Linked DNA regions of Homo sapiens: region 2 is reported to be linked to region 1. The links are microRNA targets in miRTarBase. Many come from high-throughput screens and were not tested one by one. Region 1 holds a microRNA gene; the other region holds the end of a gene's coding sequence.
The links. The annotated mature microRNA hsa-miR-4651 reads CGGGGUGGGUGAGGUCGGGC and lies in region 1 at 1,401-1,420, shown strand. An mRNA with a match to its seed (bases 2 to 7 or 8) in the 3' UTR can be bound and repressed. Matches are read on the target gene's strand: a 7mer-m8 pairs with bases 2 to 8, a 7mer-A1 pairs with bases 2 to 7 and ends in A, and an 8mer does both.

Region 2: miRTarBase lists EPN1 as a target of hsa-miR-4651. Seed matches in the 3' UTR shown: 7mer-m8 at 3,442-3,448 and 8mer at 3,383-3,390.

The regions. Positions count from the first base shown.
Region 1 is chr7:75,913,806-75,918,305 of GRCh38, forward strand. MIR4651 (microRNA 4651) reads left to right here and starts at 1,392; the gene lies at 1,392-1,464. POR (cytochrome p450 oxidoreductase) reads left to right here and starts at 1,350. Exons shown (of 16, transcript NM_001395413.1): 1 at 1,350-1,374. LOC124901680 (a long non-coding RNA gene) reads left to right here. Exons shown (of 2, transcript XR_007060393.1): 2 at 491-689. RefSeq lists an enhancer at 758-807 and a silencer at 1,068-1,557.
Region 2 is chr19:55,694,897-55,698,896 of GRCh38, reverse strand. It overlaps EPN1 (epsin 1), which reads right to left. Exons shown (of 11, transcript NM_001130072.2): 10 at 3,914-4,000; 11 at 1-3,749. The coding sequence ends at 3,541. Among named protein-coding and RNA genes, the nearest start is that of EPN1, 22 kb to the right of the region's middle.

The DNA.
Region 1 (4,500 bases):
CTGCCTCAGTCTCCCCAGTAGGTGGGATTACAGGCACCCGCCACCATGCCCAGCTAATTTTTGTATTTTTAGTAGAGACGGGGTTTTGCCATGTTGGTCAGGCTGGTCTCGAACTCCTGACCTCAGGTGATCCGCCCACCTCAGCCTACCAAAGTTCTGGGATTACAGGCGTGAGCCACCGTGCCTGGGCTATTTTTAAAAGATGGAGAAGGGGCTCTGAGAGAAGTGAGTTGCACAGTGTTGCAAAAGGAATTCACAGCACAGCTAGTAATAATAGTAGTAGTAGTAATAATAACAATGGCGATGAGAACACTTAGTAATGCCGTGCTCTAAATCCTTTAGGAACAAAGGTTATACCACTTAATCTTCATGACCCTGTAAAGTAGAAACCATAGCAGGAGGCAGAGGTGGGCTTCACTCCCCAACCAAGGCTGCCAGACTTTTCAAACCCCAGAAGCTCTCTGTATCCCCCCACTCCTCTTCCATCCAGGGCTTGCCTCCTGCTTGGTCACTTCCCACCCCCAACAGGCCGGCCTTCAAAAGCGAGCTCTAGGCAGCGTGTGGGACCTCACGCCTGTAATCGCAGCGCTTTGAGAGGCCGAGGAGGGAGGATCACTTGAGACCAGTTCGAGACCAACCTGGGCATCATAGCGAGACCGCATCTCTGCAAATAAAATAAAATAAAATTAGCTAGGTGTGGTGGCGCGCCTGTAGTCCCAGCTACTGGGAGGCTGAAGTGGGAGAATCGCCTGAGCACAGGAGTTGAAGGCTGCAGTGAGCTGTGACTGCACCACTGCAATCCAGCCTGGGCGACAGAACGAGACCCTGTCTCTAAAAACAAACGCGCGCCCTCCGCCGTCAGGCTGGATGGAGGGAACCCAGGGAGACGACTTGGGCCTGAAGCCTCGCCAATTTCAGGTGAGGAAACAGGGCCGTGGAGGAGACAATGTGGCGATCACAAGCAAGCGGCGGCCCGAAGGAGGAGGCTAGACCGGCGGGCGCACAGCCACAGTTCTGCAGTGATCCCCGGGAAGGTGGGCAGCCGGCCCGGTGACCTGCAGGGTCCGAGCTGTAGAAGCCGCAGCCGCCGTCTCCAGGCGACTCCGCCACCCCCGGAACCACGCACTTTCATTTCTCTGCCGGGCGACCCAGCCGAGCCGCGAGGGGGCGTGGCCGGGCCGGGCCGTACCAAGAGCGCAAATTTGCAGGGGGAAGCGCGGGGCTCCGGGAATGCACGCGCGGCTCGAGTGGGCGGGGCGGCGGCCCAATGGCCACGCCCCCACCCCCGCGGCCGGCGAAGGCGGTGGTAGCGCCTCAGTGGTGTGGGCCTGAGCCCTGCCCAGGTGCCCGCAGAGAGCAGCCGGGCTGCCAGCGGTGAGTGCTATCTTTCGCGGCGACGGCGGGGTGGGTGAGGTCGGGCCCCAAGACTCGGGGTTTGCCGGGCGCCTCAGTTCACCGCGGCCGCCTGGCTCTCTGCGTCGGGGTGGGCCCTCGGGCCTGGGCACTGCGCGTCTGGCCCGACGCTCGGGCGGAAGGCATGGCTCCCACCCCGGCCCTCCTCCGCGTCGCCCTTCCCCTAGAGCTGATCTCCCGCGGCGGCCTGAGGGTCGACTTTTCCACAGCTTGGGCCGAGAGAGCCCGGCAGGCCCTCGGCTGAGGGTTAGGGCTCGGTATCTCAGGGCTCGGGGTCCAGTCCCCGCGCCGCCGCCCCCCACGGGCTAAGCCACTTTAACTCTCCGAGCCTCAGTTTCCCCATCTGTACGATGAATGGGCCTCGGGAGGCAGCGAATTCTGGGGGTACCTAACGTGAGAGGCGCTCGATGCATGCTCATGGGACCCGAATCTAACCCTGCAGCATCAGGTGGGCTGAGTCGATGGATCACGGGAGCCCCCCAGCCCGGCCTGCATCCCTGAGGGCAGTGCCCCTCGCAGTCAGGTGTCTCGGCGGCCCCCACAACACAGGTACCCGGATCTCCTGGGGGAGCCGGGACACCCTTAGATCGGGGGAGCAATTGGGTAAGAGTTCAAGGTCTCTTGGGCGCCAGGGGGAGGAGAGTAGAGGTTTCAGTGAGCTTGATTGACTTCGACTTTCTGCGTATTGTTTTTCAAAACGAGTTACCCTTGTGTAAACTGGTGACCACTAATAAGGAGTTTGGGGCTGTTTCAATGAAAGTGGCTGTCTCCTCTCTTAAACCCTTAAAGCTGCAGCCTTGCCTTGCCTTGCCTCTGAGCTTGGCCAAGCTGGAGAATGATGCCAGCACAAAAGGAGACAGGACTGGACTGGGTGGCCCTGGTTTGATTCTTGGCAAGCAAGATACCTCCTGGAGCCTCCGTTTTCTGATCAGTGGGTCTGGTAGTAAGACAGCCACCCTGCTCTCCCCACAGGGTTGAGATTCTGAGGATCAAGACAGGGTCCCAGAGAGTGGCATCGAGAACTTTAATCCTCCTTGTAAGCAGAACGTTTATGGAACCCTCTGGGGGATCCAGTATCCCCACCGTTGTTCACTGCTGTAATTCCTTGGGTCTTGCTTTATGGAGAAGGCATTGATTCATTAACCATTTGCAAGTTCTACCTACGGAAATCCCTTTTGAGTGGTTATGGGGTTGGCTTGGTCAGGAGAACAGCTCCAAAGGCCCAGTTAGTAAACCAGGGAACCCAGAAAGGTCCACTTCCTTTTTTTTGGGAGGAGGGCTGTTTTAGGAGTTCTTATTTTCCTTTTAAGAGAGTGGTTTTTGAGCTACTTATGACCTTCATGCCATCTAATGTTGGAAACTTTCGCTGAGCAGATAGCTTATTATAAAAAGTATTTGTACAACATCCGCATTTCAGAGAATGGGATGCTAGCTGCCAGTTGCGTGGTGGTGTGGAAACTTAGGAGTGATCTTAATTTTCCAAAATTCTTCAGGTCTAGCACTTGAAGAAATAATAGGTAGATTTGAAATGAAACAACCCAGGGATATTCCTGAAAACAGCAGCATTGACCGCAGCCAATGTAAATCAGGTGTGGATCGTCCTGGGTAGTAGGAGTTTATAAATGCCACAGAGGATGTTTGCTGCCAGACATACCTGAATTTTAGGACCTGCTGTTGGTTAACTCTGGGTTGATCCACCCTTAACCCCTTGAAAATCAGAATCTGTGTTAGGTAAGTCTGTGTATGATTAGGAGACAGGCCAATTGAAATCAAAACTGCTTGGCAAATCCAGAACATTTACTCGTGAAGTCCATGGAACATTTCAAGTTAAAAATAATTTAGCTTTTAAGTAACTTTTTTTTTTTTGTGAGACAGGTCTCACTCTGTCGTGCAGGCTGGAGTGCAGTGGCGCAATCATAGCTCACTGCAGCCTCAACCTCCAGGATTCAAGCAATCCTCCCTCCTCAGCCTCCCAAGTAGTTGGGAGTACAGGCACGCACCACCACACCCAGCTAATTTTTTAAATGTTTTTTAGAGATTTGGTTTGCCATGTTGCCCAGGCTGGTCTCGAATTCTGGGGTTCAAGTGGTCCTCCTGCTTTGACCTCCTAAAGTGCTGAGATTACAGGTGTGAGCCACCGTTCCTGGCTTTCTTATTTCTTCTTCTTTTTTTTTTTTTTTTTTCTGATGGAAGCTCTTGAAGTTATAGGACCTTTCATGGTTCCAGAGAGGCTGGCCGCCCCTACAAGAGCTTCGATGTCCTTGTGCTTTAGGGAGGAGCCAGAGAAACAGAGGTCAAGCTCTGGCACTAGCACCGTGTGTGGCCTCAATTGAGCATGTTGGGATTTAACTTTCTGTTATATGTCAGACTCACTTAAAAATTAAAGTTAGAAAAAGGTGAAATGGAGAAATGACAATTTTCTTTTCTTTTCTTTTCTTTTTTTGAGATGGAGTCTCGCTCTGTCGCCCAGGCTGGAGCGCAGTGGGCTCAGTGCAGCCTCCACCTCCCCCAGGTTCAAGCAATTTTCCTTGCTTGAATTCTGCCTCAGCCTCCTGAGTAGCTGGAATTTCGAGTACCCACCACCTGGCCAAAGATTCTGTGCTCATTAGCACACAGCCTCCCAGGTGGCTACAGCCTTAAAAGACTTTCAAATGCCAATTCTAGGCTGGGAACAGTGGCTCACGCCTGTAATTCCGGCACTTTGGGAGACCAAGGTGGGTGAATTGCTTGAGTCCAGGAGTTTGAGACCAGCCTGGGCAACACGGCGAATCCCTGTCTCTATAAAAAAAATACAAATACAAAAATTGACTGGGCATGGTGGCTCACGCCTGTAATCCCAGCACTTTGGGAGGCCGAGGCAGGCAGATCACTTGAGGTCAGGAGTTCGAGACCAGCCTGGCCAACGTGGTGAAACCCCGTCTCTACTAAAAATACAAAAATTAGCCGGTGTGGTGGTGTGCACCTGTAATCCCAACTACTCAGGAGGCTGAGGCAGAAGAATCACTTGAACCTGGGAAGCGGAGGTTGCAGTGAGCCGAGATCGTGCTGCTGCACTCCAGCCTGGGTGACAGAGTGAGACTCTGTCTC
Region 2 (4,000 bases), not on the chromosome of region 1:
GTGGGCACCTGTAATCCCAGCTACTCGAGAGGCTGAGGCAGGAGAATCGCTTGAACCCGGGAGGTGGAGGTTGCGGTGAGCCGAGATCGTGCCACTGCACTCCAGCCTGGCAACAGAGCAAGACTCCTTCTAGGGGGGAAAAAAAAGGGCATTTCTTCCTATTCAATGAGAACATGAGGAAAAGGCAAAAGGCAGAGGCTGGCTGGGAGTGGGTTTGTGTGTGTAAAATTGAGTTTCAGTATAAAAAAAGATCAAGGCAGGACTGAAAGCCCTGAGGCTGGCATCGCAGCTCCAGAGCGAGGGGCAAGCGTAGGGCGAGGAGCGAGGATAGGGCGAGGGCGGGAGTAGAGCGAGGGGTAAGGCTAGGGTGAGCACAGGTGGCAGGGGACTCTGGTGGGCCTGGACTCTGGTGGGCGGGGTGACCCAGGAGCTCGGATGAAGCTCCTACGGGCTCCAGGAAGGTTCCCTCAAGTGCCTTCCCCACCCAACCCCTAGGCCCTGAACAGAGTCGAGACCCAGGAATGTCCCACGCCCCATCGCTTCACCTGTCCCAGGGAGAAATTCTGGGGTTTTTTCCACTTCAGCCCTCTCTGGGGGAAGACGTCGGGTCAGAAGCACATCTGCTCCTGAGAGCCAGCCGGGAGCACCACCATGACTCTTGCTTAGCCAAACCTGAGGGATCTGAACCTCCTCCTAGGCCCATCCGTGCATGCCCTTGTAAAATCCTTTCAGCAAATGAACCCCGCCGCCATCCCCCCCAACCCCCGCCACCCTCACATCTGATAGGCTTCTTCAGCCTCCACCATCCCCAGGTGACCTCTGATCACCCTGGCCTGCCTTCAGCAAGAATCCTGCTAGGTGGGTTTAGCCGAAAACCCCCGGACCCCTGAGGTTTGCTCTTAGTGATTTTCCATCCACTGATGGTACCTGTACCTGTCTCGATGGTCCTGAATAAAGTCTTCCTCACGGCCATTTAACAAGCTCGCCATCCCACTGTGGGGAGAGAGACACATCTGCTGTAGAAAGAGTGATACACACACAGTGGGGGGAGCCCTCAATCGGGGACAACAGCAGGCTCCCAGCATTCTCCCAGCGTTCAACCGTGTATGTCACTAAGCTCAGGTGCTTGGGCCTCATGGGGGACTCCTACACAGCAGCTCCTGCTGAGCACTTTGGTGGCTGGAATATTCTAGAAAGAGGAATAAAGTAGGAGACACGAGATCTGTGGTGCTACTTTGTAATTCGCACTGTAGGGAAAAGAAGATGCCGAAGATGCTGTAGTTAAGCCCCAAATTTATGTGCAAGCCTCTGGGTTTTTGTCTTGTTTTTCAATCCTGTCTTCTCTGTTTTGCCAAATGAGGAAATGGTGGGGAGAATTAAAGCCTCACACCTTTAACCCCTCCACTGGACTAATCCAACTGTATCATTTTATCTTCGTCCTCAGCTTTTTTGAAGAGAAAGGGAGTGCAGGCTCCGCAGTGCGAAATCGTGAAACTTATCCTTAATTTGGTGAATGGAGGGTCTGACAAGTGAGGGGCCCAGGAGCTATGACCCTGTGGGGAGACCAAGATTGGCAAGAGGGAGGCTCGGCTCGCCTCCCCTTTCCATGTGATCCCACCCAGAGCTGCCGCCTTCAGCTGGCTCTCTGTGCCCTGTGGGGCTCCCCCATCACAACCGCCTAGAGCAGCAGGGTCTCGGACAGCCCAAGCGTAAGGGACGCTTGCTGCTGCCTGGGGACAGCACCCCCTCCCCCGGTAACAGTCCCCATTTCCTCCTGGGAAATGACTCTCCCACAACATACCCAGGCCGGGTGTGAGAAGAGGGCTTCCCCTCCCTGGCTAAGCAAGGGGGATGCTCCTCTGCAACTGAATCTGGAACCGGCTGACCCCAAAGTTCCTGTGTCCCTGGGACCCACCTCTTCCTGCATGGTGTGGTCAGCAATTCCTCCATCAAGCCCCCGACAACCCTCCAGACACCCTGGTCTGCAGGGGCAAGTGGAGGCCAGAGAACGCTCCGACACAGGTCATGACCCAATTCACAGCAAGAAACAGAACCCCAACCTCACATCACCCCAACAGCACTCCTTTTGCTCTGCAATCCCCAGGTGACGTAGGTCTGTCCACCAGGGAGTGGGCACACAGGGTGGCCACGACGCTGCTCGGACACCGCAGTCATGTCCCTCTCAGTGGCCTCCAACACTCCACTGGCTGGGTGCTCCCTGGACCCCGACCCATAACAAGTGTCCCTGTGATGTAGCTGTCTGGCCCCACCCTGAGCCCAGAGCGTCCCCCGGGCAGAAGGGGCAAGAAGTCTGACCCCAGGGGCCTGGCCCCACACAGCCTTCACCCCAGCACCTCTGAGACAAGAGCTGTCGGAGTCACTGAGGGAGCGAACCCAGCCGTCAGGACTTGACCCCAGGGGATCACGGAGGGAGACTCCACATGGAAGAACAGCCTGTTCGGCTTAAAACAGACATGGCCAGATCCCCATCCCTGAGGCCCTGGCTGTGGGGCCTGCAACAAGCTGTCACCTAGCCCTGGAGATGACAGCAACACCCCCCTCACAAGGCGGCCCGAGGATTCTCCCGGATAGTCTCACCAGGTGTGGTCCAGCCCAGGACAAGAGCACACAGAGGAAAACAGCACACAGAGGACAACCAGGAGGCGCCTGGTGGTCCACTCAGCTCAGCCGGCAGAGGCTGACCCGGCTTTCCAGGAGTGCAGGGATGGATTAGTGATGCTTGCGGTGGGCCCGGGCGATGGCGACGGTGACCTGTGTTGCACATGTGCCATCTCTCAGGATTCTTCTCCTCCCTGAACCCCAGTGCACTCTCTGACCTCATCCTGGTGTCCCCTCAACACAAGAGCAAGGCCTCCTGCACCGGAAGCGTCTGGCCATGAGTGGCCTCCCGACCACCTGGACCTGTGTGGGCTACAGCTCCGCCAGGCCTCGCACAGTCCACCCTCAACCCAGCCATCCCTTGACCTGGGAGGGTCAGGGAAATCAGGGCTTCTGAGACAGAGGGGCTGGTTGCCAGCCACCCCCGAGAAAGAGATGTGACCTGAGCCCTGGGTCCCTGGATGAAGGGGCTCTGGGGGACACACGAAATCACAGATGGGAATCTGGGAGTGCCAAGCCCGTGGGAATTGCCATTTATTCCCAAAGTTGCCAAAATCATCACCAAGGATTCACCGAGGGTGCGTGAGCGGGTGCGTGAGGGGAACGAGGAGGCTCAAACACTGACTGGGGGTTGGGAGTTTGGAGGGAGGGGGAATGGGTGGGGGCCCCAGCCACCCCTCCCCCTTCTAATGCCACGGGAAAGGGGTCCTCCTCTGGCCAGCTCCCCTCCCCAGGCCCCATGTCCAGTTTCTCTCCGGGGAGGTGGGGTGGGAAAGGAAGAGGGTGTAGTGTGAGTGGGCCCCAGGAAGGGGAAGGGCACTGGGGGTGGGGATCCCCCATTTCACATGCACTCACAACACTGATCTCCCAGGGAGCCGGAATGGGGCAGCCGGATGGAGCCAGGCCCCCTTCCGCCCTGGATTATAGGAGGAAGGGATTAGTGTTGGGGGCCGGGGGGCCCGGGGGCATCATGGGGGGCAGGCCAGGGCCCCCGCCAAGGGGAGAGATGTACGTGGGTGGCGCTCCAGGGACGGGAGGCACAGGACTGAGACGGAGCTGGTTCAGGGTGAGCGTCGCGGGAGGCGCGGGCTGGAAGGGGTTGGTGACGGAAGGGCCAGTGGCTGGGCCTCCTGCAGGAAGAGTAAACCAGAGACACGGAGTGGAGTCAGTGGCGCAGCCCACCTGTGTCCATCCAGCATGTGCAGGCAAAGGGCGAAGTGTCCCTGCCCCGTGAGGCACCTCCTCTGGTGGAACCCACAGGAAGGACTTGAGCAGGTGATGGGCCCACACTCACCGCCTGGCAGGAAGGGGTTGGAGGCCTTGGCTCCAGGCGGCGTGGGGCCCGGCCGGCTCACCAGCGAGTCCAGGTCGACGAGGGCTG